6 separate regions of the Homo sapiens genome follow, and regions 2, 3, 4, 5 and 6 are each linked to region 1. Evidence: fine-mapped QTL for protein levels in blood plasma. Region 1 holds a variant in brackets. A gene starts in each other region. All regions are shown on their reverse strands. Distances are between the middles of the regions.

The links. PIP is the posterior inclusion probability: the model's chance that the variant is causal. Protein levels are from antibody-based Olink assays in UK Biobank. Linkage for the fine-mapping came from a reference panel and not from the study's own genotypes, which makes the PIPs less certain.
Region 2: it holds the start of SMTN, and the variant in region 1 is fine-mapped to the plasma level of the SMTN protein (UK Biobank, PIP above 0.99).
Region 3: it holds the start of CCL28, and the variant in region 1 is fine-mapped to the plasma level of the CCL28 protein (UK Biobank, PIP above 0.99).
Region 4: it holds the start of COL5A1, and the variant in region 1 is fine-mapped to the plasma level of the COL5A1 protein (UK Biobank, PIP above 0.99).
Region 5: CCN4 starts here. The variant in region 1 is fine-mapped to the plasma level of the CCN4 protein (UK Biobank, PIP above 0.99).
Region 6: it holds the start of VASH1, and the variant in region 1 is fine-mapped to the plasma level of the VASH1 protein (UK Biobank, PIP above 0.99).

The regions. Positions count from the first base shown.
Region 1 is chr5:88,883,224-88,888,369 of GRCh38, reverse strand. MEF2C-AS1 (MEF2C antisense RNA 1) reads right to left here and starts at 5,040. Exons shown (of 10, transcript NR_136219.1): 1 at 4,885-5,040. It also overlaps a transcript of MEF2C not described here. RefSeq lists an enhancer at 4,079-4,128. The variant A/G (reference allele first, on the strand shown) is at 3,991.
Region 2 is chr22:31,078,412-31,083,557 of GRCh38, reverse strand. It overlaps SMTN (smoothelin), which reads right to left and starts at 2,240. Exons shown (of 21, transcript NM_134269.3): 1 at 2,102-2,240; 2 at 249-379. The coding sequence starts at 299. RefSeq lists a silencer at 2,199-2,358.
Region 3 is chr5:43,409,186-43,414,331 of GRCh38, reverse strand. CCL28 (C-C motif chemokine ligand 28) reads left to right here and starts at 1,941. Exons shown (of 3, transcript NM_148672.3): 1 at 1,941-2,079. The coding sequence starts at 2,016.
Region 4 is chr9:134,639,180-134,644,325 of GRCh38, reverse strand. COL5A1 (collagen type V alpha 1 chain) reads right to left here and starts at 2,523. Exons shown (of 66, transcript NM_000093.5): 1 at 2,030-2,523. The coding sequence starts at 2,138. RefSeq lists an enhancer at 838-1,544.
Region 5 is chr8:133,187,893-133,193,038 of GRCh38, reverse strand. CCN4 (cellular communication network factor 4) reads right to left here and starts at 2,000. Exons shown (of 5, transcript NM_003882.4): 1 at 1,826-2,000. The coding sequence starts at 1,894. RefSeq lists a silencer at 881-1,128.
Region 6 is chr14:76,759,211-76,764,356 of GRCh38, reverse strand. VASH1 (vasohibin 1) reads right to left here and starts at 2,889. Exons shown (of 7, transcript NM_014909.5): 1 at 1,227-2,889. The coding sequence starts at 1,535. RefSeq lists silencers at 2,363-2,632, 2,733-2,922.

The DNA.
Region 1 (5,146 bases):
TTACAAATGGGAAAAGAGATATTGACCATCCTGGTCTGATGTGTCTCAAGGCTGGTTCTCTTTCTGGGACTAGCCTCAGTCTGAAGCCAAGGAAAGGTTCATTTGTGTGCACAAAGTCATGGAAAGCCAGACTAAAACAGAAATCAGAACACAGGAGCATTTGTCTGTGCTCAGTATAGTTAAACACTGCTTGGAAAAATAAGGTATTATTGGTAATAGAATTTATAAACCGTACTGAATACACATCACTAATCCCAAAGTATTTTAAATTGGCCTTTAGGCAATGCATAAAATAAGCCCTTTCAGTAACCTCAACTGCATTGCAAACATTTCCCGATTTGACAAATTGTGTTAGCTTCGGATATAATGGATTTGACATTCTTCTGTAATTCTCTATCAGATATAAAACTGAAGGTACAGAAATACAGATAAACATAGAATCCTTAGATATGTGTAAACCTTGTCTTGAAATAACAAATCCTTTGTATATTGCAAATTCTCAATCACAGACATTCCACATGCTGTATATTCTTCTTGGGTTAATGCTGCACCTAGTGAATTTTTGAAATTTAGATATTTGGCACTATTTATGTTAAAGATTATTATCACAATGCATGACAATTTCAGTTGTCTTATATTCAAAACACTTTGGTTTAAAATCAGAATATTGTTACTTCAGATTAGAAGTTTTAGAAATAAATCTATTTGAAAGTATTTTCATATCAGCATTAACAAAATACTATATACTGTTTTGCACTTCCACATTTGAAGGTGCCAAAGAAGAGTTGCAAACTGTGAAGTAACTTCTATGAAGAGATGAAGTAAAGAACGGAAGGCAAATGATTGTGGCAGTAAAGAAGTGTATGTGGTGAGTGCTCACATTTGTTTTTATCATTTACCACAGAGTTACCATAAAGGTAAAACTGCCAAACTCCTTGGCCTTAGGTATTTACAGAATAGACGTGTATAACAATAATAAAGAGTTAAATGACCACCATACACTTTATATTATAAGCAATGACATATCATTTTGCTTAAAGATCATGTCATCTTTCAGGGCCTACTTTTGCAAGTACTGTATCTTATAAAATTAATCTATTTCATGGGAAGTCCTGTGTATCATCAATACTATAATTAGACAAAGATTAAAATATGTAATGCTATTGGAATTTGTGTTTCACTGCTTTTTAGATTTTTCTAAACCACCATGTTCACTTATCATGTTTGTGTTAAAAGTATTCTGGCTGAGGAACAAATACTATACAGTTGAATAATCTTAAGGGGTACATTAATCTATAGCCTTTCTTCATCTCAGGGTGGGTTGCTGTGGCAACCGCCCCAGTTCACTTTAAAATAATTTTTAAAGCTCACTTCAAGAGCTACACCCAGCGTGGGCCAGGCTTAAAAGCAGGCAGACCCAGTGCACAGGGCTTTAGTGGACCGCTGCTTTAATGTAGGGAAGTAGTGAAGAGAGGAGGTTGGAGTAAGATGGTATGCAGCTCTGAACAGAAATTGCAATATTAGCTTTCCCTGGAGTTAAAATCCCGAGGAGCATGCTCTCTGTAACTTCTATGACACTTTAATTAAATATATTGCTAAACATAATTCTTTTGAGGGAAAAACAAGTGACTCTATATTTACATTAACAATAAAGCATTTACAACTTAATGTAGGAGAAATATTTGGTGATTAGAAAAAAATAAAAGCTGGTACAGTAGTACATCAATCCCAGACATAATTTTCTTTTAAAGGAATTGTCACCTATTATTTAACTGGATAGACCCTACCTTCCAATTGGTTTAAAGGGTAGAAACATTTTCTGTTTTCCAATGATAGAACTGGAATAGGTTACAGAACTCATTTAACACATAAGCGAACTGAAGCCTAGAAAGGACAAATCCCTTAGTAAGGCACAAATTTTGAACTAGATAGAGAATCCAGGTCTCCTGACACCTAGTACAAGCTCCTCCCTACATGAGAAAATAGTCTGATCCTAACCAAGTATCATTAGATGGCAAGGATCAGGATGATTTTAAAGAAAAAACAAAAACAGAAACAGAAACCAAAAGTCCAGAAGTATTTAAAGAATACAAAGCACACTCTGGATTAACTACTTTGTGGATTACTCATGAATAATTTTAAATCTCAGGTGATTTTCTAATGTATATTTCTTCATATCTCTTCTGCTTCAACTGTAAAGGCTCATGGGAAGAAAACTAATGGTAATATTAACTTAGGTCACACATAATTAAGAAGCTAAATCTGCTGAGGGGAAAATCCTGTATTTTAAAAGGCCAACTGTGATACATTCCAGATCCAAATTATTTTCAAATTATCCAGTGTGGGGTTATACTTATTTTTGAATGCTTGCAGTATCATTAATAATTATGGGTTTGTTATAATGGGTATTATTAAATAATTATTTAAAATATGAAAAGGTAAAATAAAATAATTTCTTTTTGAAAGAACATCTAAAACTGAAGTGTACTGTGGTAAACAGAAATACCCTCTATAATTCATTAAAAACAGCAGGGCTGAAATTCATGTATTGGCTATGTGTTTGCTCATGTCAAATAGACTGTTGTAACTCACTGCATTAATTTTAGGTATTATGGCAATAAACTTAGATGGTCCTTCAAATGCTTTGCTTTTTCAGGACCTTCGTGAATCTTGAAGAAAATTAATTTTATTTTTACCACCATATATAGACATATCTTAGTATTCGAAATATCTTTGCCCTTTAAATTTTTGGATTTTCAGAGAAGTTGTACTTTGAATGGAAACCTGATACAGATGTTCTCTGCCATATTATTAAAATGAATTCATGGTAATGGCAAACTCAACATTTGAAAAACCGGCAAACAAAATACATTGTAAATACTAATCTGCAAGAAATACTACTATTTCAGATGGTTTTTGCTTTGTGACAGTTTGTGATGCATTCCTATAATAAAAGGGAGGGAATGGTCTTAGTTTTGCTGATAGTCACAATGATGAGCTGGAACTTGAAGATTGTTCAGATCTAGTTGTACTTGCCTATAAAATAAACCTTCCCCTTTCAAGTGAAGCCTTGGGACAGTTGCCTAAATGTTGAGGCCACTCTTCTGAGAGAAGCTACTCACATCAAATACCTCCTACATTGAAGCAGGAGGCTTTTTGAACCATACTGTCCTCATATATTAAAATAGTCATCTGGAGGCATATTGCTGAACTTAACAGGAAATACAACTAGTCATTGGGTTAAACGTAGTGCTAAAAGGAATTTTCTAAAGTGAGGAAATCTTTAGTTAGCTAGATATTTCAATATACTATTGTCTAATCTCATATATTCCATGTTCTATTAATTTTCCCTTCTTGCTTTCACAATATTTTTTAAAAAATAGTTTGGTTTAAACATTTTATGTAATCTATAATTCTACTGGCATGCAATCTTGTCTTTTCATGATTCTATACTAGTTGATGTATTTTATCTTTGGCTTTATTGGGCATGGTATATATTAACAGTTGGTTAGGGCGGGAGGTGCCCAATCTCTAGTAGCCTAAATATTAAAGCCTTTTTTTTTTTTTTTTGTAAGGAAAAGTGTTTATCATGCTTTAACCTTAACATAAGTATCCTCCCTTATCAGTCTCTATTTCTGCTTCCTGTGCAGCTGAAACTCTTCAGGATAAGTGAAGTCATCAGCTATCGGCTAGGGTAGCCTAATGCATTTGGGAAGTTGGTTTGGTTTACATGTTAATGACCTGGATGAAGTCCAGTAAGGTGTGGAAAAGATAGAGTGGGGGGAGGGGGGGAACTCCGAGGAAGCTGCTTCCTCGGTAAATATTTCCAAACTGATTAGAAAGTTCATGGCCCCGCGATGAAGTCGAGATCTCAAATACTGGTAATTATTTTATTATTTCGTACATTACTAACATTAGAGAAACCTTTCGGCTCGCTTTCTAGCGCTCCAACCTCTCAGGGTGAAAACCGCGACTTCTGGGCGTGCAGGA[A/G]AAGCACGCTGGAATCGAGTGCTGCAGACATCCTGGACCGTGGTTTTTACGCGTGAGTAACGGAGGAGCGCACCGACCGGTGGAAGAGAGAAGTGGCTAACGCGTGTCCAAAAGGGGGAAAAGTCACAAGAGCAACTATTAGGGTCGCGCTCCTATTGGTCAGAGGAAAGATCCCGACTTTAGAAGGACTTTCCTGCTGGCTGGCTCGCAGCGTCCCCGGAGAGCAAGCGAGCGCGCCGCAGCGGGAGACTAGGTTCTCTCCGAGCGTCCTCCGCAGAGGCGCCGCGAGAGGAGCAGGGAGCCGCAGCTCGCCGTGTTGTCTTCATTTCGTGCAATAAAGAATTGTCATTAGGTTTGCGTATGGCATGTGCTATTACCCCACCGTAAAACTAAAATTAGCAAAATGTCAGGAATGGAAAGATTGATTCACCAAGATGCAATTATCATTTAAAAGTGCTTGATTGAGGTACTGATGTTCAGTGATTTATTCTGCATACCATATACATAATTAAAGTAGTGTAGTGGAGTAATTTATCAATCTAGTTGAGACTGGAGGGGTGAGGAGGGAGCTGCTGTATGTTTGTTTTATTAAAATGCTCCGAGGTCTAGTCCCGCCCCCCTTTTGCAAGAGTGAAACTGATGATTTCTCCAGCTCGCGAGGAAAGAGTCAACGGTTTGGGATTGTGGGGGAGAGAGAGACGGAGAGAAAAAGGCAGCGCGAAGCAAAGGCAAGGACAAAATTAAATAAAGGGGGAAAAAAGGAGGCAAAAGACATTTCATCGGACGTGCTGCTTAGAACCCCAACCATTCGTGCTCCGTCTTCCCTACCACCCCCGCCTCCCCTCCCAGTATCCTTCAATCCCCCCCGCCCCCACCACCCCCAGTCTTTTTTACGCGATGTTTCAAACGCTGTGAGCTGTTCTCCTTTTCCCATTCGTCTTCTGTCACTTCCTTCCTGGACGCAGTTTTCTGGACGAGTCTGGTTACTTTTAATCCGACCGGCCGCTGAGAGCCACTTTCTCCTCCTCCTCCTCCTCCTCCTTCTCTTCCTCCTCCTTCTTCCTCCTCCTCCTCCTCTTCCGAGCGGCCTCGGCGCGCGCGAATGCGCGGCCCCGCGCCCCCCCCCTCGCGCGCGCTCCCCTCGCGCGCGCGCACA
Region 2 (5,146 bases), not on the chromosome of region 1:
TACTGTTTAAACAGGTGGTGGCTGTGGAGGGTTGGGAGGGACTAGGCTTCAGTACCAGGCATGGACAGGCACATGCCACAAGGGCCTCTGCATCAGCCACATGGAACTGGCCTACCCCTGTTCCCATGTCCCCCTCCTCCTGACCTTTCCCCCATCACTTCTTCCTGTCAGCTGAGAGGTACCCTGGATTGACCCTGCCTCTCTGGCTTGGCTTTCCTGTCCCCACAGTGGGTGATGGGGCCACTTACCAGCTTCCGAAGGGCTCCCTCATCCAGCCCAGCTAAGGCCTCGTCCGCCATCTCGCTGGCCCCTAGCTCCGTCGGTTCCTTTCTGGTGAGATCCCCAGTGCCTGTGGCACCTGTCACCAGCTCAGAGAATTCTGCAGGGGACAGACATGAATCAGGCATGCTGGGGCTTCCAGAAACCACAGGCACTTAGGCTCTGTGCCTTACTTTCCCTCTCTAACCTAGGAGCGTCCATTACTGTCCCATCCTATAATGTGGCTCCTGGCTGGAAGCTGCCCTCTGCCCTAGGGTGGTTTGCTGGAAAACTCACCAAACCCAGGGTAGGGGGTCTCTGGTTCCAGCCCTGCCAGCTTGGCCGCCAGTCTGCTGTGTGGCCTGGGATGGACTCTCATCCTGTCTAAACCTCAAAACAGGGAGGGCAGGGACCTGGATTGAGAAGCCAGGGCCTGGCAAGACCCACCCAAGCTGTGCTTACCACCAGGGGGTGCACTCCAGTCTCCAGTTTCCTGCCCCACCCACCCATCCACAGGGCCTACCCAGCCCCCACCCACTCCGCAGGCTCAGCTTCTGGCTGTGGGCTGAACCCGTAGTTCTTGCTGCCACCACCACTGTCATTCCCCCAGGTATAGGAAGGTACACTGTGTCTTCCGATTCTTGGAGCCAGCTCTGCTGTCCAGACCTCCTGAAGCCAGGTGTCCAGGCACCCAGCACCTCCTGCCAATTCATACAGAATTCAATTCCCCACCTGGAAGGGCTTTCAGAAGCTGACCTGCCCAACCCCTGGATTTCAGGCAAACTGAGAAGATTGGAGAGGGCCAAGGATTTGTCACTGAGCAAGGAGGAAGCCAAAGACTTAGAGGGCAGAGAAGGATGTAATCAAAATCTTCGTCATCTCCGGCTTCCGAAGCTCCCTTCCAAAGTGCCCTCAAGGGCCTGGAACACTCTCAGTGACAGAGGCAAGAGCCCCATCTTGCCCCAGTGCTGCCCATCAAAATGGACCCCTAAATCCTGGCCCAGCCTCCCAGCGCAGATCTCTCCTTCCTCCTGTAGCCCCAACTAATGTCTGTCTGGAATTTGAGGGGCCCTGGTCTGGCACACTGTGGATGCTTAGTTAATGTATGGTGACTGACTAATGTGTGGCCCCAGGCCTGCCCCCCACCTCCTGTTGATTCATCTTTCAATCATCCCTTCCCTCTCTTCAGAACAGTCACTTGGGAAGTCACCCCATACGGTGCATGGGTGGGGGGTGAGGGTTACCGCTCCACACAGTTGGGGTGTGTGGGTCCCAGCCTGTTCAAGTCACTGCTTGTTCCCCCTCCCATCCTGGTAGGCTCAGAGGTGTCAACCTCCCAATCTCTGCCTGTTAGGATCCTTGCCTCTTACCTAGTTACTCTGTCTGGGTTAAACCTCTTCAAGACTGTCCAGTGGTCACCAGCCTTAGGTTCTGCGGACATTCTGATTCCCCCCATGTCTGTTCTTCTATGGGGCAGCTGACCCTAATGCCTAATCTAGGACACCCATGGGATTATAAGAAGATCCCTGCCGCTGCTCTTCTCCAATCTCCCTGTCACACAGTCTGGGGTCGCCGGACATTGTGAGGGGCCTCAGGATTCTGTGGCAGCTTCCCCAGGGTTTCTGCCGCCACAGACTAGCGCCCCTGTGGGGCGTGGAGTCTCTTAGGAATCCGGGGGCGTCTTCCCCCAACAGTCTCATAACTTTATCCCATGGCTTAGACCTCTCGTATGGGTGGGGGCTCCCAGGTCTGGACGTTCCAGAACTCCTGTCTAGACATCCGGGTTCCACCCCCGGACACGTTGGGGCAGCACCAGGATCCCCCCCGAGGTCCGCACACCCACCTCTCAGTCCAGCCCACCCGTCCGGCGCAGGCTCGGCTTAGCTCTTTCGGGACCCGACAGACGGATTAGACACGCGCAGGCCGGAGGTGCCGCGACCCGCTGTCCCAGGCCCGCTCAGCAACCGTCCCCTGGATTCTGCGGAGAGCTGCCCGTCCAGCCGCGCCAGCAGCCCGGCTGGCCCCGCCCTGCCCCGACGCGCCAGCCAACCCTCGATTGGGTACCTCCCACTCTCGTGCCCCATTGGGAAAATTCAATTTGACGGCCACGCCCCGAGAGGAAGGCCCCGCCCCTCGCGGGCCAGGGAGGTCGGAAATTGGGAGTCTTGGGGTCGTCTGCCTCGGTGGCTTTAGCGAGTCGGGTGGGCATCGGCAGGGGGACGCAGGCTCTGCGCCAAGTCGGGGGGGGCGCCCCGAGCCGAGGTAAGTTTCCTGGGGTCGTAGGAGTCTCAGAGCCTTCAGGACAGCCCCTCTCCGCCCTCCTCTTTGTTCCTGAGACCACGTCCCCTCCCTCGACTCCACCCCTTTCTCGCGTCAGTGTTTAAGCTTGGCCGCCGTCCCTAGGCTGCTTTCGGGACACCTGGTCTGAGCCACCTCAGAGCAGGGACTGAGTGACTGGCAGCACCTTGACCCTGTGTTGGAGTGCCGGGACCATCTCAGGTGGAGCAGAATCAATCACACAGCACGCCTCCCCCAGCCCACACACCTTTGAACAGACATTGCCTTCTTGTAGCATGCTTCTACCTTCCAAGCCCTGAGAGTCTGCCTTTAGGAGCGCTGGAGTCCTAAATAGGGAATATGGAGTCCAGGCTGTCATTCAGCAAAAGGGGGAAATTGAGGCCCAGAGAGAGCTGACATGTCCAAGACCAAACAAGGAATCAGCCAGGGTACCCAGGAGGTCAGATCCACAAGGCAAAGCTATTCCATCTTCAGTGCCAGAGGCCCTAAAGCCGCCCTTGGGTCTCCATGGAGACTAAAGTGGGTGGAGTTGGGAGGATGGGGTCTGGAGTCCTGTCAAATAAAAACAATAACAAATCATTTATTTTGTACTTGCCATGTACCAGGCATATAATGCCCATAACAAGCACATGAGACCATGACTATTGCCCCATTTTACAGATGAGGACAACAGCTGATAAGTAGTAAAGCTGTGATTCATACCCAGCACCTTCTGAGTCCAGACCCTGCTTTTAACCACTATAATGTGGGATTCTGGGGAGGTGGTTTCAGCCTGTTAACCCAGAAGAGCCCCGGTTCAGGTCCTCTGTGACACCCCCCAGCCCCCATCTAAGGAAAGGCCCAGTCTCCACACTGAGAGTCTTTTCCATGTGTCATTTCATTTCATCCCCACACCCCTGAGAAGTGGTCCCATTTTACACATCAGAAAACCAAGGCACGGGCCAGGTGCGGTGGCTCATGCCTGTAATCCCAGCACTTTGGGATGCCAAGGCAGGTGGATCACCCAAGGTCAGGAGTTCGAGACCAGCCTGGCCAACACGGCAAAAACCCCGTCTCTACTAAAAATACAAAAATTAGTCGGGCAAGTGGCATGCACCTGTAATCCCAGCTACTTGGGAGGCTGAGGCAGTAGAATCACTTGAACCTGGAGGCAGAGGTTGCAGTGAGCCGAGATTGTGCCACTGCACTCCAGCCTAAGCGACAGAGCAAGATTCTGTCTCAAAAAAAGAAAAAAGAAAATCAAGGCACAGAAGAAAGCGACTTGTCAATGCTACACAGCAGGAGAGGCAAACAGAGCTCACTTCGGAGGACATATTTCAAGGTCCTAGGCTTTCTCTACCTGGGCGAGATGCCATGTTATTATCCAGAACGAGGGTCAGGCGCCCTCTAAGACCAATTCTGAATACTTCAAAATTCACGCGTCCCTTGGGACCTCCCCTTCATGCAGGGCACACCTAGGCCACCTCTGATTTTCAGGGCCTGCCTGAATGGCGGTCACCAGCTCCAATGAATGGCCTGCTTTGTGCTAATGCCCTCCTTTCTCCCTGCCCTACTGTAGGCTAGGAGGAATGGTACAGGTGAGTTCCTCCATGCTTGGATTTACTGTCTGGCACATGCGCTCACTAGCCCTTGGCCCTATGGAAGGGATGTGTGGGTCCTGCCCCTTCAAGCCCTTAGTGCCTGGGTCCACCTCCAGACATACCCGCCTGCCTCTGTCTTCCTCTCTGCAAGGGAGTGGGGGTGATCTAGAGATCAAAGGGCAGTCCGGTACAGTGCTAGGGAAGTTTACAGCTACAGCCGAGGAAAGAGTAAACATCCCGTGACGAGGGCCCCAGCATTTGCTGAACACCTGTTGCATGTCAGACGTGGGGCTCCCACTACTGCCAGGTGACCACTGTGCAAGATAGGTACACTCTGATTCGACAGAGGAAGCTGAAGCTCAGGGAGGTGAAGGCACCTTGGCCTAGTAAAGGCATTCAGACTAAAGTGGAATTCTGCCTGATGCTGAAGCCCCTTCCCTCCACTTTGCTGCCACTAGGATGGGGGAAGCTCTGGAAGACTTCTTAGGGAAGTGGTGTATAAACTGTGTGTCACACTTGTTTTTATTTTATTTTATTTTTTTTGGAGACAGGGTCTTGCTGTGTCCCACAGGCTGGAGTGCAGTCGCATGATCACAGCTTACCATGGCCTCAAACTCCTGGCTCAAGCAATCCTTCCATCTCAGCCTCCCAAGAGGCTAGGACTACAGGCACACACCACCACGCCCAGCTAATTTTTAAAATTCATCCCACATAGAAGAGGGGGAAAGGCATGAAAGGGCATTTGTGGCAGAGGAACAGTGTGAGCAAAGACCAATAGTCTGGGAAAAGGAGGAGGATAGGCTGTGGGCGGAGCAGGAAATGTGGGTGGTTCTCTTTGCCAAGGATTCTGAATGCCAGATGAGCAGGATGAATGTATCTTGTGGGCACCAGAGAGGCCTGGGCCTCAGCCTGCCCCCTGTAAAATGAGGTGATTAGACTGGTCTGCTTCAAGCCTTCCTAGGGCAAGGGGCTGTCACAGAAAGGGTCTACTCTAGGTTCTTCCAGGTTCA
Region 3 (5,146 bases), 45 Mb after region 1:
GGCTTCATTACATAGGCATGATTAACAACCATGTAGAAATGTGATTAGACAAAAAGCACATAATCTAAACCCAGCAAGTCCTGCCTGTTCAGGCTTTTCTTGGCCTGTGTAGCATTCCTTCCTCTAGAGTATGGGACAGAACCCTTTCTGGAATGAGGATCTTATGACCCACAATCAGATTAGAGTCCTGCCTTGGGCAGGTGAAAGAAAAACAGAAGGTCAGAGAGAGATTCCGTTTCCTGAGGCCTGTTCCTGAAGCCTAAAGTGCCCCAACATTATAATATAAAAAAAAGACTGGGCTGGGCACAGTGGCTCATGTCTGTAATCCCAGCACTTTGGGAGGCCAAGGCGGGTGGATCACAAGGTCAGGAGTTCAAGACCAGCATCTTGCCAAGATGGTGAAACTCACTCCAGCCTGGGCAACAAAGCGAGACTCTGTCTCAAAAAAAAAACAAACAAACAAACAACAAAAAAAAACTGTAACAAGGGTTATGGGAGTTATAAGCCAGGAACCATGGATAAAAGCCAATATATATATCATAACACCACAACCCGAGACTGAGCAATTTATAAATAACAGAAATGTATTCTCTTACAATTATGGAGGCTGGGAAGTCCAAGATCAAGGCTCCAGTGATTTCAGTTTCTATTTCCAAGATGATGCCACTTTGCTGCATCTTTTGGAGAGAAGGAGCATTGTGTACTCACCTGGCAGAAGAGCAGAAGGTACCAACCCATTCCCACAAGCCCTTTTTATAGTAGCATTCATCCATTCATGAGGGTGGAGCCATCATAACCTAAACATTGTCCATTAGGCCCTATCTCCCAGCACTATTAGGGATTAATTTTCAACATGAGCTTTGGAGAAGAAAAAAATATTCAAACCACAGCAGTAATTTGAAAACATAAAAAGAAATGGGTGAAATTAATTTTAATAATATATTTTATTTAACCCAAAAAGTCCAAAATACTATCATGTAATCAATAAACAGTATAAACATTATTAACAAGATATTTTATATTTTTTTCTGTACCCAGTCTTTGAAATCCAGTGTGAATTTTATACCCATAGTACATCTGAGTTTGGACTACTCATATTTCAAGTGCTCAAGAGCCACATGTGGGCTAGCGGCTACCACATAGGACAACACAGTTCTAGAGGAAGCATGGCATGACTTTGGAGGTCATCTAGTCTGACTTGTTATTTACAGCAAAGTTAAGTACGTTGCCTGAGGTTATACAACTTATTAGTAGATGAGGAACAATTAGAATCCAATTATCTTCATGCTACCCCATGCTTTTATTCACAAAGCTGATTGGCAGCAAAGCTGCACTAGCGCTCATGCCTCTTCACACCTGCTCTTGGGCTCTTTTCTACAAGGCATTGCCCCCCTTCCTGTCTTTCTCCTAAATAAGCTATTGTAAAAAGCTTCACTGGAAACAATTTGGCTGTGAACCAAGACTAAAGTGGGGTTTAATACTTCCATATCTTTCCACAAAGATACATTTTTTATGACTTGTCACCCTTGTCCCCAGAAACTCATGGTTTCCATAAGCTACTTAAAAACTGATTATGCAATGGGTCTCAACATAAGTGTCCATCAGAATCACCTATAGAGCTTTTACAAAATTCAAATGACTGGTCTCCTACCTGGGAGTTCTGGTTTACAAATCAGGGAAAGGGGAGAGTCATTTAGATTGATTTTTTTTAATGTTCCCCAAATGATTCTGATGCACACCCCACCTCACAGTGACCCTGCCAGCTGCCAGATCTCCATTGACATCCCCTGACCCCCAGGCAGGATGAACACAAGTTAGGAGCTTAATAAGTCGAGGAGGAGCCTGGTCTTAAGGAAAGAAACATGAGAAATAGATACCCTGAACACCTCCCAGGGCGGGGCCACCTGGCTTACTTTTCCTCTGCACTTTCTCTGTGCCCAAGGACACCTTTAGCCTCATTTCCTGATCGAACAGCCTCACTTGTGTTGCTGTCAGTGCCAGTAGGGCAGGCAGGAATGCAGCAGAGAGGACTCGCCATCGTGGCCTTGGCTGTCTGTGCGGCCCTACATGCCTCAGAAGGTGAGTGGGGGCACTGGACACTTAGGCCTTCACTGGAAAGGGGGGTATCTCCCAAATCTGTGCTGGAAGGATTGAGGTGGGGCAAGAATATCTATCTCTTCAAGCAGGAATTTCCAATTGATTTCTGATTACCTACAAGAGAATGACATAGCTTTAAATTCTAGATCTCCCAGAAGTTTCAGGAAGGAACCTCATTCTAACAGGCATACTACAAATTTTTGCCACCTGGAGGATGAGGTCCTTCCATGTAGGTACAACTTCGAGCTATGTTTCCTTTTCTGAAGACAGTATCTTAGAAAATCCCCAGCTAGAGGCTGGAGTAAAGCCCCTACTATTCATCTGTCTTCCTCCACACCCCAACCTGCTAAACGGTCTGAACACAACTGTGCACATTCCTGGAGGGAAATACAGACTTGGCCAGCTGCGTTCAAATTAGGTAAGTTGTAAATTTCCTGAGCAAAGTCAGCTCTATGGATACAGAAAACTGAAACTTCAGTCTGACCTTTAAAAAGGGAGGGCAGAGCTGAGCACAGTGGTGCATGCCTGTATTCCCACCTACTTGGGAGGCTACGGCTGGAGGATAGCTTCAGGCCAGGAATTCAAGATTGCAGTGAGCTATGATCACACTGTGAATTGCCACTGCACTCTGAATTGCCACTGCACTCCAGCTTGGGCAACATAGTAAAACCCCATCTGTTAAAAACAAAAAGAGGGGAGGGGAGGGGAAAGAGAAGGAAAGGAAGAAAGGAAAGGAAAGAAAGAAAAAGAAGAAAAGCAGGATGAGGGAGATTGAACCATACAAATTATGTCAAAGAGAATTTAAATCGTGAGTTGCTAGCATGTATTTGGAGATTGTAACTGCATTTGAACTAGAGGGAATCTCTTCTAAAGTAGCACTCACTACTATATTCAGGAAACCCTAAGTGTCAGTACTTAATACTTGACCAATGACTCTTTTCCATTGTCATCTTTTCTTTAAGCTTTATCCTGAACAGATTCTCTAAGTCTAGAGCAGAGGTGGAATATAAGTCTTTGGTCTGCTTTTTAAAAATCTGAGCCAACATTTTAAAACTGAAAGCTTTCTCATGTACATACTCATACATACACACATACAAATTGGATTTTAAAGCTTCTCTTGAGAAATCAGATGTGGCAACAATGATTCCACCATACCATGGCAAGAACTGGCTAAAGCAGATGAGCCTCTGAAGTTTGCTGTATTAACTGCCTGGTCCCTGCAGGCATTTGCTTAGGGACTCCCAATATAGTCCGTCAATGTACTGGGCTTATACAAATAAGCAACAGAAAAAACCTGGACAATCTCTTCTCAATTTCTACTAATCTATCTATCTTATCAATATAAAGACAAAAATTTGTCACTTTATGTTTCTGTAACATTTCTCAGAAAAATTCACCATTGAGATTTGGGGACTCATTTTCACTATTTCTGAAAGGCCTACCTGCTAAGGCTTCACTCCTAGTTCTGGTAATTCCACCAACTCAAATTTTTTACATAAAACTTTGAAATGTGTACCTCCATCCAGCTTCCTGACCTACTCCCACCTGTCCCCACAGCGGCAGCTCTCCTACAGGAAAGGAGGGAGGGAACAGCAGGTCGAGGAGGCAGAGGGTAATGAGGAAGGCTCTGCCATACCCAGGACCCACCTTCACATGGGACTGAGTCCTGGTAGAGACGGTGGGGTGGAACGGCAAAATGCAGAGGTGTGTGAAAAGGTACGGCTGCTGGTGATAATAAGGAAGGGAGCCGAGAGACCCAGCAATAGCCTTTTGGGTTAGTCTCGATGCTTTACCTAAGGCAGTTTAGGCCACAGGAAAATCACATTGCCTGAGAAGCTCCAAACTTCTGTCATTTAAAAATAAGTGATACTGGGTAAAAATACACAAGTAGGCCTGAGAACAGTCGTGGAATAGAGGGGCAACGCCACAGCTATTCTTAACAAACTTCCACTCAAGTGTCCATGTAAGCCAGGTGCCCTGTGGGAGGCACTTAAGTGATTCTGGCTCCAGGGAGGGGGTGGAAAACCAAGTGGGGAGGGAGGAAGGTAGAGAACACTCAACAACTCAACAGTGCAGAGAAGAGGACAGGTGGCCTTGGCAAGGGGAATAGGAAAAAGGCCTGTGCCAGTTTGGAACTTTGGGAAATATATTTTGTTTCCTTGAGGCAGAAAGCTGTTCCCTTATCTTAATGGTGTCTTAAATGGCTATCTTGTTGTGATGGCTCAATAACTGGCATTCCCTAAGTGTTTTGCATAAATCAGGAAGCAGGTGACTTTATCTATAATTAAAAGCCTTGGATTCTGCCCAAAGGTAGGGCACACTCCACCTCTGCTGACGTGGCTGCTGGCTCCCAGAACTCAATACTGAATCCATAAACATGTCTATCATCCTGTTTCGGTGGCCCTGAGCCTGATTATTTAAACCCACAATCTAGGACTTTGTGGGCCTGGCTGTTTTATTGTACATTAAGATTAAGGCTCACTTGTGCCCAGCAGATTCAAGTTAGGAGGTTTTGCTGCAGTGAGTCCCAAATTGCCTTCCCACTGACAACCTTCTTTCTCAGAGTACAATGGCTACTGAATCACACCAATACTTGCTAGAGATTTGCTGCTTGCATCCTAAAACGTTTACCTTTTGTTTTAATCATAAGACTCTGGCTAGGGAAGGTTACCACGAATATACATTTGTGACTCAATGTTGTTCTGCACAATTGGGACTCCAATTGTGGTCCCTAAGAGGTCTGACATAGGTGGGACTACAGGTGCATGCCACCACACCTAGCTAATTTTTTGTTTGTTTGTTTTTGGAGATGGAGTTTGTTGCTCTTGTCGCCCAGGCTGGAGTGCAATGGTGCAATCTCGGCTCACTGCAACCTCCGCCTCCTGGGTTCAAGCAATTCTCCTGCCTCAGCCTCCTGAGTAGCTGGGATTAGAAGCGTGCACCACCACACCCAGCTAATTTTTGTATTTTTAGTAGAGACGGGGTTTCACCATGTTGGCCAGGCTGGTCTCAAACTCCTGACCTCAGGTGATACACCCACCTCGGCCTC
Region 4 (5,146 bases), not on the chromosome of region 1:
CTTCCCCCAGTGCCTGCATCTCCAGTGGACAGCCGCCCCCTCCCCCCAGCGCCTGCATCTCCAGTGGACAGCCGCCCCCTCCCCGCCACGCCTGCATCTCCAGTGGACAGCCGCCCCCTCCCCCCAGCGCCTGCATCTCCAGTGGACAGCCGCCCCCTCTGGCCATGCTCGAAGGATGACTTCCAAATAGGTCCCACCCTGGGAGGTGGAGAGACGTTGGCAAAACTCACTAAGAAAAGTGGTCTCTCCACATGCTTCTAAAAGTCTGTTCTGACAAAAGCAAAATGTCCAACTCCATAGCCTGCTGCTCTGGGCCATCCTCACTCCCACTTCCAACGAGCCGCACTTCGATTAGCGAGGGCAACCAGAGAGGGAAAAAGACAGTGTGGAGGTGGGGAGATGGGCAGGGAGGGAAATGGAACCCCAAGCCCAGTCCGGTGCATGGTCCCCAGGCAGTGCCCTGCCCCAGCTGTCTAGGGTGACGATTCCCCTGAAGGACTCCCTCCTGAGTTTCTGGGGAAAAGTCCCCAGAGGCGCTGAGACAGGGCCTAGTCCCCCGGCAATGGCACAGTCCCTGACCACACCTTCCTTCTCCTCTCCACTTTTCTGGGGACCTCTGTTGTCCCCCACCTTCAGCTAACCCCTGGAGAAACACAAGCCCAGTTAGCCCAGGGTCAGGAGAGAGTTGGTGGCGGCCCAGGGATGAGATCCCAGGTCCTGGGAGCCAGGCCAGGCTCCTGGCTCCTCCCCCAGAGCCCCAGGGCAGCCCCCACACCCAGACTCCAGCTCATCCAGTTAGCCCAACAAGCACTGATCGTGCCAGGGAAAAAGGAAAAGAGTGTTTTAATTGACAAGCGGAACACGGACAATGATTCTTCCCACTTGTCTTCCAATCGTGAAGCAGAGAGAAGCATTCTTGCTGGCAGGCGGCGGGCTGGTCCAGACGTTCGCTGAGCCCACCGTCCCATCGCTCTGCCCGCCACTTCTCCTGACCTGGCAGCACACAGCTCTGAGCCTCCATCTCCCCGCCTGTCAATAAGGATTCGGGGGACCTTCCAGGGCTGGGGGCTCTGATGTTCGAGAGTCTGTGAAAACCCACCCCGCCACTAACTACCAAGAGCGATGCCTAGAAAAACTCCCCCGTCAGGAAGCTGCGCCAGGGAGAGTTGAACCCTCGAGAACCCAGGCAGGGACGCAGACAGTCCCCGCCTTGAAGCGCCCTCCCCGGGAAGCAAGCCTCCTTCTAAGGGCTGACCCTTGGCAGAAGGAATCCCACATCTGCATATCATCCCAACCACTCACAGCCCCGCCTGCAAGCCCATCTCTGGCTTTGCTCCACGCATCCCATCTCTCAGCAGCGAATCCAGGAAAAGCTGCCTTCCAGGGATCAAGAAGTTTGGGGGTGGGATTAGGAGCAGGGCTGTCTACCACCCTGCAGGGGTCCCCAGTGCCCCCGAACACTTAGGTGACCAAGGCTGCAGGAAACGCTGTCCCTGGGGAAAGCAGGGCGCCAGCTCAGCCTAGAGTGACAGTGCCTGGGGGAAGTTCAGTGCTGGGGGCCCAGGCTTCTGGGATTCCCCCCATCCCCAGGAGTCCCGGGATTTGAAGGGCTGTAACTCTAGGGGGCGGCCCTGCCCGGTTTGGAGCAGAGGAAGTTCTGCTGTAGGGCTGTGAGGGCCCAAGCTGGGCGCCTGTGATGTGGGACAGAGAAGGAAGGTTTTTGGGACAAAAGTTTGCCCGCCTCGTGGACAACCCCTCCTGCTGATCCAGCCCTCGGTCCTTCCTCGGCTCGCGCGACAGCCCCACCCGACCCGCCCGTCTGGGGAGGGGGCGGCGGCGCGCCCGCGGGCATTGTGTCTGCGTGTCGTCATCTCGGGGGGGCCCCCAGCAAATGGCATTCGTGGTCTTGGCCCGTGCATTCCACAGGCCAAGGAAGAAAAGTTCTGCGGGCGAAGGCGCCCGGGGATGACAGCGGCGCCCGGGCTGCGCGCGCCCCATCCCGCAGCCCCGCGCCCCGGGGCGCCCTTACCTGCGCGGCTCGGAGGCGGCGCCCACAGCAGCAGCAGCAGCAGCGGGGGCAGCAGCGGGGCGCCCGGGCGGAGCGCGCTGCGCGCTTTCCAGCGGGTATGGACGTCCATGCCGGCGGGGCGCGGGCCGGGGCGCACAGGGGCGCTCGGAGGCGCGCGGGGACGCACAGGGGCGCGGGTCACGGCCCGGGCAGCGCACTCAGCAGGGACCGCACCACTTTAGGAGGTCATGGGGACCTCGGCACCCCCCGTTCTTCTTTGTGGCGGCGGCTGTTCTGGAAGGGGCGGCTGGCGCGCTCGCCCACGGGCGGGAGGGCTCGACTTTGGCCCGCGGGGCGGCCGGGACCCCGCTGGGCTAGCTCGCCCTCGCCTCCTCCTCCTCCTCCTCCAACTCCTTCTCGCCTCCTCCTCGCCGCCGCCGCCCCGCGACCCGCTCCCCGTGGGCGCTCCGCTCGAGTGAGGTCCTGCGCCAGCCGCGGGGACGGAGAGTGCGGACCTCGCCTTCGGCGCGGAGCACTTTTTTCCCCCTTTTCCTCCCTCCCTCTCTCCTGGAAGGCAGCCGCGGAGGCTGTCGATCCCCAACGCCCGCAGCAAATCAGAGCCCGGCGCTGGGCTCGGCGAGGCCAGCCCCCGCCTCCCACTGGGCGCCGCGGGCGAGGGGGTGGGGACAGCGGGCGAGTCGCAGCGAGGAAGGGGCTGGCCCGGGGCGGAGCGGACGTGGGGCGGGCGCGGCCCCCTGTTCTTTCTCTGAGAGCCGGTAGGCGGGCGGGCCTGGGGCGGCCTCGGAGCCCAGGGGCCCACCCTGGTCCCCCCACTGTTCCCACCCCAGGTGCCCGCACCTGGCCATGCTCCAAGAACCAGTGCAGAGGGGCCCCGAGGTTTGATCACTTCGGGTTAAAAAGAAAGTTGCAGTTTACCCCGCCTAACTTTTTCTTTAACGTGGAGGAGTTCAGAGCTCCTCTTCTGGGTGGAGACTAAACTTCCCATCCAGCCAGATCAGGGCGCCCAAGACTGTGGCCTACGTGTCAACCCGGACCGAGGACCTGCCTCCTAACTGCAGATTGGCACGGGACCGAGCTGGGGTCTGACTTCCCAAGAGCTCCCGGGACCTCCATGTGCTTGGACGGGAACATCTGGGTTATTAATCAGGCGAAGTTTGGCTCTGCGGCCCCCAGGCTCTCACCCCTCACTCCTGCCCACTCCCTGGTGGCCCCTCTGCAATAAAAAGGAAACCAAAGAAGGCATCCCCTTGGGAGTGACAGCTGGCGCAGGGAGAAGGCATTCCTGATCGGCTGCTCTCGGAGAAGAGCTGGGGCCCTGATTCTCCTGCCTGGCTTCTTTAAGCCCCTCGGGGTCTCCTCCAGCAGGAGGCCCGCCAGTCTCTGGGTGGTAGGTGGGCGTCTCTCCCTCCAGCTTCCCCAGGCCTGGCCTCCCTGCACAGCCTCCTGAAGCCTGACCCACACCCCTTCCCCAAGGGCTGCAGGGCTAGTTTTTTAAAAGGAGGGAATCAGAATGAATTAAGAACGATTTGCAAACCCTGGGCCATCCCCATTCCCTTTGAACAAACAATTTAGCCAGAGATGCCAGACAGGGCTGGGACTCCCCTCTCCAGTTACATCTCCAGACTGGGCGTGAAATTCCCCAAATGCTCTTTAATTCTCACCATTCTGGAAACAGGAGGTGAGAGAGGCGTCCGAGGTTAGGTTTGCCAGGATAGCCATGGCAGGCTCCGGAGCTGGGTGATAGGTCGCTGTTGCTAACTTGGTGATGAGGCTTTTAGTCTCCATATCTGCCACATGCGCTTGCATAGATATCAAATATTTCGCAGGAAAAGAATGAGAAGCTCTTCACACACAGACGTGGGGAGGTGCTTGAGATACATTCAGTAAAGCAAATGTTAGTTCTGACCTGTTTCCTTGTTGATTTTATTTTGTTTTACAACTTGTATAAGGCATATGTGATCAGGCAAAAATGTGTGTGAGTTGTGTGCATGTGTGTGTTTGTGTGTGTGCCTGTGTGCGTGTCTGTGCGTTGGTTAACCTGCAGCCACTGGCCCTTTACTTTCCCTGTGGACTTCAATGAGTGAGAAATTCCATCAAACCCCAGACTCCGCGCCAGCCCCAGCTGTGCTTGGTCCTTGGAGTGCCCCCGCCCCTACCAGCAAGGCCAGCTTCACCCCTGAAGACTAGGGGTGCTGACACAGGCCATGGCCTGGTTATCAGAAGAGAGTGGAGGCTTTCTGGTTCCAGCTTCTTTTTCCCCAAGCACAAGTGGAGTTCCTTTCTGACAGTCCCATGTGCACATCCGTGCCAGTCAGCAAGCCCTCCTGTAACTCACAGCCAGCATCTAAACTTTGCCCTGAATTAACACAACTGGCGCCTTAAGAGCTGACACTCAAGTGACCACCCCAAGGTCCCCCAAAAGTTGACTTCTCAGCAATGGTAAGATGGCTCAGTCTTGCAGCTCAAGCAGCCATGACAGATGCACTTTATCCTCTCTTGGAGAGCAAGTGGTGCGGTGGCTTGGAAAGCTGTCAAATGTGAGTTTCCACCCTCATCTGAGCCTTGAGTTGGGTGGAGAGATGAGTTTCTATCCCACCAGGAAACTCAGAGAGAAGTCCCCAAACTTGGCGGCCTGATGTGTCAGCCAGGGACTATGGCAGAATGGCCCGGCAGTACCAATCAGGATTCGAACTGTGTTGCCAAGCTAAGAATATCAGCCACATCTTAAGGCTTTTGCCTCACACTCTTCACCCACACGTGCATCAGTTCTCATGCACCGGTAGGGAATACTGGCATCTCTCCCATCCACAGATGAGGAAATCAGGGGCCACAGAGGGTAGGGGACTTACCCAGTTCATCCGTGACAGGGTCCGGATTTGGACCCAGGTCTCCATGCTTGGAGCCCAGTGTGCACTGCCTGCCTCCCCATGGCATCCGGACCACACGCCTGCCGCCAGGACCACCCTGCCCAGATTCAGACAACAGCAACTGGTGCAGATTGTCCCAAACTCACCATGTTCCATGCCCTCCCACAACTGAGCAAAACCAGAGTCCTTGGAAAACTGCTTATTGCGCGCATACTCCTTGCCAACACCGCTCTAGGCTTTAGGGAGTATG
Region 5 (5,146 bases), not on the chromosome of region 1:
CTCTGTCCCAGAAGCATCTAAATCATGAAACAAGCATGGGGTGGGTGGTCTGGGTTCCCCAGGCAGGGGCTGCCTAGAAGAGAGGTACCTTGTGCTGGTCCCGGGAGCCTTCCCTCCAACCTGCTCCCTGGGTCCCTCCACACGCTCTGCTCCTTTGCTGGTCTCCTCTGGCTGAGTCCTCGGCTCTGTCCTTCACTCCTCCTCAGCACCGGCTGTTCTGGGAGCTGACTGGGGCTCCAGAGTACTTGGACTCATGCTTAAACCTCTCGCCTCCTCTGCCCACTCAGACTTTGGCTTCTCTCAAACGCTCACCTTTTCTCCATCCTCTCCCTGCCCTCCCAGACATAGCAACCTGCAAAGCTATACCCAAATAAAGGCGCAGCCATACCCAGAGCCGAAATAAACAGCGACTTAGCTCCTTCTGGGCACTCCTGTAGGACACAGTCAGCTTCCCCTAAGTAGGAATGGTTAGAAATTGGCATCAGAAGATCTAAGTTTGGGCCCTGGCCACTTATTAATGAGGAGCTCCTGGGCAAGTCCTTTACTTGCTCTCACTTTCCATTTCTTTCATTTGTGAAATGGAGCTGATAACTTTCTGGTAAGGTGGTTCTGAACCAACTATAGTCAGGCACCATGCCAGGCGTGAGGATTTAACCAAGATGAAACAGACCCACTCCCCGCCATCATTACACACACCGAGGCATTGAGAGGAATTCCTATTTCCCAGGTCTCAGTTTGCTGTCGGCTCTCGGCCTCAGTTCTGGCTGAAGCAGACCTAGAGTCTGATTCTGGCAAGTGGTTTAACCCCAACACACGGTTTCCTTATCTGTGAAGGGGGCTTCTTAACCCCCAAGGAAGCCATCAGTGTCATTTGGGGATAAACACTCTTTTGCCATCACCCCTCCGTCTCTAGGCTGTTCTGCCAGGAGCAGGTCCTGCCCTGGGCTGTGGAATCTGGGGCTCAGAAGCTGCCAGGTACCCACCTCCTGCCCTCCTTGCACTGCCTGCCTCTGCCTTTTCCTCACCATGCCTGGCCCTAGCAGGCTGGCTCTACACGGTCACATATGTGACTCCCCTGGCTTTTGGAGGTGCAGACCTTTGTCCCTTCCCCTTGGTGTACCCTGGGGTGCAGGTGGAAGAGAGAGAGACTCTGGGGTGCCCACATCACCCCCACCCTGGAACAGCAGGCTTCATAGGCAGGACCCAAGTATGGACACTCTGCAGACTGCAGAGGGCTGTGCAGACCGGAGGTGACAGCAGTTGGGGTTAGACATCACCCTGAGCACTGTTTGCTCAATAAGGAGCTTTTGTTGAAAGCTGGCATTTTTCTTTCCAATTTTTTTTGGCTTTTTCCATCTCCCATCTTCGCAGCATCTCCAATGCTTGGAGTCTTGGAGTTTTCAAACTCAGAGACTCTAGAAGTCACCTAACAACTTCGTCGCTTTACGCTGCTCCTGGAGGGTGAGTGACCCACCCGAGGCCACACAGCCAGGTTAGGCGAAGACGGGTCTGGAGCCCGGGCCCCTGACTCCCAGTTCTGCTGAGGGCCCCGTTCTTTCTGCACTGTTTCAGGTGGGGAGAGAGGGCAGGCTGGACCTGTGCAGTTTGTTTCCCCAAGTGTCGCACCGTCCTCCTCACCCTGCCAGCTTCAGCCAACCTGGGCAGCTGACTCCTCACCCTGGGCTCTGTCCTTGCCCTGTAAGTGGCCACCTTCCAGCCCCAAACCTTCCTGGCCCTTTTCATCCTGCCCACCAGCCCCCATGTAGCAGGACCCAGTAGAGAAGGGAGCTGGGTCTCCCTCTGAGCCCCTCCAGGCAGGACTCACCGTGGCCAGGACGGTGCTGGCGGCTGCTGCTGTCACTGCTGCCAGCGTCCAGGGCAGGAACCACCTCATGCCTGGACGTCAGTGGCACAGGCATCGACCGAGCAGCCCAGAGGATCCGACCACCTCTCGGGGGAGCTGGGCCCAGACTGGCCGGCCCATCAGGAGCACCAGATATGCCTCTTCCGCAGCCCTTGGGGGGTTTTATTAAAGCAAGATCTGACGTCAGGGTGAAGGACAAACCCTGCATTTTCCTCTGAAAAAACTTTTCCTGCCTCTCTCTCTTTTTTTTTTTTCTTTCTTCCCTCTGTCCCCACCTCCAGCCTGAGCTTGGCCAGCCTCCCCAGCTCTGACAGTTCTTAAAGGGAAAGTTACAAGGCTATGACTTCACACTAGGGTGTGAAATTCTCACAGAGGAGCTGGGGTCATCCTGCCTAGGTCTTTCACTACTGTAGGGAGGGGGGAGCATGGGAGGGTGCAGGATGTCCGAGGAGATACTGTTACCCCAGGCAGGCGGGTGTGTGGGCTTTGAGAGGGCTCCCAGTGGGAAATCAACTCCCTGTCATTTCTTCAGGCTGCTCCTACTTCTGGTTTTCTTTTTCCTTTTCTTTTTCTTTTTCTTTTCTTTTCTTTTTTTTTTTTTTTTTTTTTTTTTTTGAGACAGAGTCTCGCTCTGTCGGCCAGGCTGGAGTGCAGTGGCGCGATCTCTGCTCACTGCAACCTCTGTCTCCCAGGCTCAAGCAATTCTCCTGCCTCAGCCTCCTGAATAGCTGAGATTACAGGCATGTGCCACCACACCCAGCTGATTTTTGTATTTTTAGTAGAGACGAGGTTTCACCATGTTGGCCAGGCTGGTCTCAAACTCCTGACCTCAGGTAATCCGCCCACATCAGCCTCCCAAAGTGCTGGGATTACAGGCGTGAGGCATTGCGCCCAACCCTACTTCTGGTTTTCATTTGCCCTCTTGCACTCCCCTCTACCTAGCTGCAAGCGAAAGAGGTGGCTTTCAGTCCACCCATCTAGAGATGATAGGAATTCACAAATAAAATGAGCTCTGAGGCTCAGGTTACAGCATCACCTTCATGACACGTGAAAGCCACGGTAACGCATTTGCTGTTTGCCGTCTCTGCTCATTGGTCAGAAGCCGTTTGGTGCTGGAGCTGTCCCCACGTGTCTCTGGATGCTTGCTATCCCTGGGGGGTTGGGTTTCCTGGCCTGTACCCTTATTGCACTGCTGCCACTGAGTCTCTTCCTTGGGCAAGAAAGGAGATGGGATGTCTTCTATGGGCTGTCCTAGTCCAGCCCTGTGCTCCCCATGGGGACCGCTGCCACAGCCTCCTGACTGATACCCAGCCTCCCTGCCCACCTTCTACCATCCACACATCTCAGAGCAATCCTTGAACTAGCGTCATGTATAGATCATCTTCTGGATACAACTGTCCAAAGCCTGCCCATCACACAGCACAGAGTCCCCAGTCCTGGCGTGGCCCCTGGGCCAGCCAGCTCCCTGTACACTTCTTCCTCTCTCCCTTTCGTGCACCATGCCCAACCACAATGGCCTCCTTGCAACTCCTCTCACACCTTGGCAAGTTCTCAGCATCTCCAGGTCTCAGTAGGAATACTCGACACTGAGGTTTAAATGACAGTTACTCCTTCTCTTCTCTTTTCCTGTAGCTTATTAACAAGGGATGCTGAAGCATGTGTGGCTGCTTGGAGGTAGCAGCAGGCTTGTGTTCATGGAAGAGGTTTATGATCCCTATAGACATGACCCCAGAAGAGATGGTGCTCATGATTTCTCCATTTACTGACCTGGGGATGTGCCTCTGATCCAATTCCGGCCAATGAGACATAAGGGAAACCTGCTAGGGTCTTCTAGAAAAGATTCCCTTCCTCAGGAAGAGAATGACCATCTACTCATTCTTTTCTTTCCTTGTGTGCAAATGTGATGGTTGGAGCTGCAGCAGCCATTTTGGGTATATGAGGCTGAGAATAAAAAGTCAACAAATTGAGGATGGCAGAGTGGAAGCAAAAAAAAGGTCTGAGTCGTTGGGACTTCATGTTGTTGTTGGAGCCACCATTCAGACTTCTCATTACATGAAATAATTTAATATTTTATTGTTTAAACTGTAGTTAGTCTGAATTTTCTTTTGTTGGAGTCAAGTTGTATACTAATTGATACATGAGGATTACTAAAATCATATATGTAAAATTAAAGGGCAGGGTATGTGGGGGGCATGTAAGGACTGCCCAATAAATGTCAGTCATTTTCTTCTCATTAATTTATTGATGCTTAAAAACAAATCCCAGGCTGGGCACGGTGGCTCACACCTGTAATCCCAGCACTCTGGGAGGCCGAGGCGGGCAGATCACAAGGTCAGGAGATCGAGACCACCCTGGCTAACACAGTGAAACCCCGTCTCTACTAAAAATATAAAAAATTAGCCAGGCATGGTGGCGGGCACCTGTAGTCCCAGGTACTCGGGAGGCTGAGGCAGGAGAATGGCGTGAACCCTGGAGGCAGAGGTTGCAGTGAGCCGAGATCGCGCCACTGCACTGCAACCTGGGTGACAGAGCAAGACTGTCTCAAAAAACAAAACAAAACAAGCAAACAAACAAAGCAAAAAATAAATCCTAGGAGGCCAGCATTGTTGACAGGTGTCATTAATAAATAACCCAAGGTGTTAGGGGCCAATCTAGGCTCACTTGGCTTTTGATGAACACTAAGTATGAACGGGCTCTGTGCTGTAGAGCATCTCATGACTACAAGGCAGACAGTGTTATGAAATAGGTGGAACACATCTCAGAGATGCTAGATGGTTTCAGAGCACACGTATGAGTAGTAGATCTGAGGCTGAAACTAAAGTCTCTTAACCTCAGACAAGGCACAGAGTCAGGACCAGACATTTCCAAGCCAGCTTGACCTGCCAAAGCCTCTCAATGTTAAGTGTAACAAGAGCCTGCAGAGCTGGAAGCCATTGAACTCCACCATCATTTTTAGGAAATCCAATTGTCTCGAGCAATTGAAGCAGGCACCCCAAAACATGATCAAAGTGCTGACCATTCCACCTGTGGGTGAAACCTCACATGACCCGGTGAGCCTCATGGGCACCTGCCATTCTTCAATGTCAGTGAAACTGAAAACAAACGGCCCAGTGACCTGGCCAGGATGGTAGATTTGGAGGCAGAATGCCAAGGTGTCCCCCAGCTCTTCCATTTACTGGGGGCCTCGGACAATCAACAACCTCTCTGTGCCTCAGTTTTGCTTGTTTAAAGAAATGATGTTAGTGTCTACCAGATAGGGTCCTCAGGAGGCCAAAAGGGGAT
Region 6 (5,146 bases), not on the chromosome of region 1:
ATATTAAGTCAGTGCAGAGCACATTTATGCGGCCATTCCAAATCAATCTACATTTTGTTTCCCCTGGAAACATTAGGCAGTATTTAAACCTTCAACCTTTGATTCTCTTTTTCCCAGAAGACACTTTCTGATGGCTGTACCAATAACTTGGTAAAAACAAAACGGGCCACTTGTCCTCATGTCTAATTCACACTAACTTCCATTCTTCCTAGCCCCCTTCCTTCCAACCTGGGCAGGCAGGGCTAAGCACTGGGCTCTGAACTCAGTCCAAAGGGCTCTTTTTTGGAGATTTCAGGCCTCTGCATTTGGCAAAGTGCCTCCTAGTCTTGATCATGTTTTTTTTTTTTTTAATATCTGGCATGTATTTCCATATAGCAGCGTACAGCACAGAAACTCTCAAATACCCTTTCATTCAGCAAACACACACACTAGTGCCTGTTCTGTGCCAGGCACACAGGAGGCCTTGGGAAGACAAAGATGAATGAGATACAGCCTCTGTTTTCGTTGGTGACACAACTGAAGTATAGCTGTCATGGAGGAGGAGTTACAGCCAACACAGAAAAATTATTTCATTTTATGCTTCTCCATAAGACCTCTTCTAATGTGCTTGAATCTACTGTCCAACAGAGAAGAGGACCTGGACACTTCCCTCCACCACCACCCCCCGCCCTTCTCCTGAAGACCTGAAATTGAATCTCAGTTCTGCCACTTACTGGCTGTGGGATCTTGAGTTCCTACTTGAGTTTTCAGCTTTCTCATCTGTAAAATGGGAATCCAAACTGTACTTACGTCACAAGGCTGTTGGGAGAATTCAATGACATAATGCACGAAAATATTTTCTCAACATATGAAGCCCTGCATCTCCTTAGTCATTCATTACATTTGTCTGCTCACAGTTCTCTGGCTTGGCAAGTGTCATCAAGCAAATGAGACGTCAAGCCATCCTACTGTGTTTGTTAGTTCCATCTGCTGCTGTCCCCTCCTGTAAAACGTGGACATTTTAAAAGACAGCGGGGAGGGCCTCCTGGAGACAATGTATGTGAGCCTCCCTCCTAGAATGGCAGTGAGAGAAAGTTCTCCTAGACAGGTATGATATCACTGCATTTTAAAGATCTTACCGAGCCAGTGGTCCCCTGCCCCGTGGGAGGAGAGTGTGGCTTCACTCTTGGCCCCAAGGTCACTAAAACCTAGACTGTGCTATCACCCCCCTGACCCGTGTGTCTCACCTTGGGCAGGTCTGTGGCCCCACGGATCCGTTGCGCCACCTTCTCTCCATCGGGGTGGATCTTGGCCACGTGTTTCCACATCCTTTCCCAGGTGGCCTCATCCACAGGTAGCCCACCCCGGTTGACAAAGAAGGGGACGCCTCCGTCTCGCAGGTCCTCTTCCCCTTCCTCTTCTGGCTCCTCATCTCTCTGGGCTGAGGTTCCTTCGCTGGTCTCCAAACGCCTGACCCCAGAGGGGGCGGTGGCCGCAGCGGACGTTGGAGTGGCACCGCTGCTGCCACCCCCAGCCACCTTCTTCCCCCCTGGCATCCCTAAATCTTCGAGGGGGGTGGTGGAGGCGGGAAAACAACTGGCTCACAAGAGGCCTCCCACACACCGGCTGCAGAGATAACACATGGCCAGAGTGCAAGGCGCCTTTAAGAAATCAGGGCGTGGCTCCTGTACAATAAAATACGACTTGATAAAAAAAATCAGTGCAATAAGGTGAATTAGGGTCCGAGGGGGTGGGTTGTCTGGGGTCAGCCTTGGAGGCCTTGTTCTGTTTGAAAAACGGAATAAAGAGAACACACCCCAACTTGGCAGCCGTCACAAAGCACCCCCATCTAACTGCGAGAACAATGACGGGCAGCAGTGAGGGCTGGCAGAGCGGAGAAAAGTCGGAGGGAAACTGAGGCCAGACAGCTCGGACCAGCGGCTGCAGAAAGGACAGAGTCAAGGCACGGGTGCCCACTGGGCGCCCTGGGTCTCAGTTTCGGAGGGAACAAAATCCCCTACACAACTCTCGCACGCTCACATCTGCGCGCGCCCCAAGGAAGACCGAGGCGACTCCCGGCCGCGCGAGCTCGGAACCAAGACCCCCGGGCGGGAGAGCGGCGCTGGGGGGCGATTTCTCCGACGCGACGAGACAAGTCCGGGAGCCAAGACTCGCAGCTGGCCGGGAGCGGGGAGGGGGCGCGCGCCGACGCGCACATTCCCCGCCTGCGGCCAACTCCCTGCACAAAGTGGGCTTTGTCTGGGTCCCCTGTCCCCTCGTCCCCAGAAACAGCGGCGGAGTCCCCAGAAAGGGAGCGGGCGCGGCGGGGAGGCGAAGGCTGCGAGCCCCGAGGCCCAGCGGGTCCCCACTCGGGCGCGTCTCAGCGGGAGGACGGCTGGCACCTGGCGCCGCGCTGCACCAGCCGAGCCATCGCAGGGCACGGGGCCCGCGGCTCAGCGGGACCGGCTCGGGCGGCGCGCAGGGGCCAGGCTGAGGTCACTGAGCGGCGGGCTGCGGCCGCGGGGTCGCTGCCTGGGACTGGCTGCAGCATGGGCGGTGGCGCGGCCCGGGCGGGCGGAGGATGCTCCGTGGCTGTTCGCTCGGGCTGCAGCTGCCCTGGCTGAGGGTGGAGGAAGGACCGCGGGGCGGGGACCGCAAGCCCGGAGGCTCGCGCAGCCTCGGCCGGCGGATGTAGCTGGAGGCGAGTGACGAAGCCGGGCGAGCGCGCGCTGCGCTGGTGCCTGGGGAGCAGCCCGCCAACGCGGAGCCCGCCAACGAGAAGCCCACCAGCCGATCGCTGCTCGGCGAAGCTGGGGCCGCCGCTGCTGCAGCCCCGCCGCCCCTGGGCCCCGCTGCCGCCGACCACGTCCCCTGCCAGCCAGCCGCCCACCAGGCTCGACTACGGCCCGCGCCGCGCATGCGCTCCGTCCCCCCCTTAAAGGGCCAGCGCCTTCGCGCCCAGTCCTCCGCCCCCCGCGGCGGTGCCTCTGTCCCAAGTTACCCCAAGGACGCCGGTGGGCATTCGCTCCCTCCTCACCCAGCTGTCAGGGCGCCGCGAAGCCGGTGCGAAGCTGCGGAGGACGTTTTCAACGTGCCAGAGGGAGCGCAAACTCCATGGAGATTCCTAGCGCAGAAGGAATTCCTGCGGTCGGGAATTTCTTGAAAAAGATTCTTCGCAGGGGCCCTGAGCCGGTAGGACCGAGAGCACTGGCCTGGAAGACTGGGATTCTAGACCGGATTCAGTGCCTGTGTTGCTTTGGGACGTTCAGCAGTTCCCTTCCCTCTGTAGGCCTCAGTTTCCCCATATCCCAGCCGAGGTGGTCACAGTGAGTGAGCGCAGAGTCCCTCCCAGCGCGCACAGTTCTTAGAGGAGGACATCTAGGGATTGAGACGGGGGGTCACTATCTCTGGAAACGAAAAGGGTTAAAAGTCACCCTGTTTTATTCGATTGCCTGCACTGGTGGGAATGGGGTGCGCAGAGCTCACCCCTAGACCATCTGCCTAGACCGGGCTTTGGACGCTCTGGACCCCGCGGACCAGGGTGGGACCGCGACGTGGGCGTGGGAGGCAATGCTTGGGGAGGGTCCGCTGGCCTAGAGGAAGGTGAAAGTACAACCAGCTGTGGTGCGTGGTTGGACACTGGACGCACCCTCCGCCTCCCTCATGCCATAGAGTTGTAAATGGTGGGAAAGGCACTATCTCTAGGCTGAAGCCAAGAACTTTAGGAAGAGACGGCCGAGTGTGTGCTTTAAGATGCTCCCCCTCTCCCCTGCCTGTAGTTAGCATGAATCACAGTCTTGTGGGAGAATGCAGATTCCTTGGCCTTAGCCGGCAGATTCAGATTCCTTAGTTGTGGGGTCGTTGCATTTCTTGACAAGCTGAGGTTACTACACAAGGGCTGGGTTAAAGGCCTTAGAGAGACCCCAGGGCCTCAGTGGTTTCACATCTGTTCTCTAAAGCTGTCCCTAGTATCTGAACTTTCTGGGTACCCTGTGCTCCCGTAGCAACCTCTTACTACCTCCAGGGTCAGAAACCAAGGGTTATCAGTGATGGGAAGGATTGCAAGACTCCAAGAAAGTTAGTTCAGCCTGGATCTTCTTAAACTCACTAAGGCAAGAAGACTCCAAGCGTAGAAAAATCACTAGGGATCAACAACTATCACCCTGTATTGTATAAACCAAGTCTCAGAGGGTAATTTCCCCAAACTCACACAGCTAGTAAGTGGCAGAGCTAGAATGTGAACAGAAGTCTTACTTCTTCAGACACTTGTTTTTCACTCTATACATTGCTTCTTGTGTTAGCCAAGTGGTGCTGGTTTTAAAATTGGCTTGCAAGCTCTTGACCATTCTTTTCAAAAGATGGGATCTAATTCCTTTCCCCCTGAATGTGGGATGTACTTGGTGACTGGTGTCTAATGAATAAAGTGTGATGAAAGTGAAGCTGTATGACTCTTAAGACCAGGCCATAAAAAGGAGACAGCTTCTTCTTGGTTCCTCAGAAGAAACCAGCTACCATGTTGTGAAGAAGCCCAAGCCACATGGTGAGGCCACATGAGGGTGTTCTCGCTGACAGCTGCTGCTGGGCTCTCAGCCAACAGCCAGAGTCAATCACCAGATCATGGCAAACCGAGACTTCAGGTCTTGCCAGCCCTCGGCCTTTAAGTCTTAGAGTTGAGGTCCCAGACATGGAGCAGAGAACAACCAGCCCTGCTGTGCCCTGTCTGACTTTCTGTCCCACAGAAATTGAGAGAGGATAAGTGACTATTCTCGTTTTAAGCTGCTAAGTTTTGGACTAACTTGTTACGCAGCATGAGATAATACCATGTGTTTTCTGAAATGACAAATAAAATAGATGTAGGGTATTCATTCAAAGAGTAAGTACTCATAGAACATCTTCTATGTGTTTGACTCTGTACTGGGCACTGGAGAAGCAGTAGTGAACAAGAGGGACATGGCCTTTGCTCTAGTTGGACTTATGGCCTACTAGTGGAGGAGATAGTTAAGCATGATTTCCATAAGGTGCTCTGCCAGAGGGTTATTCAGGAAGCTGTGGGAGTGCATACCCAGAGCAACTTCCCAATCAGGTGAGGAGCTGGGAAAAGAAGAAATGAGTTGGGTACAAGGTCAGCATGGACTAGGCTAGAGAATTTTCTGGCATGTGTGCATAG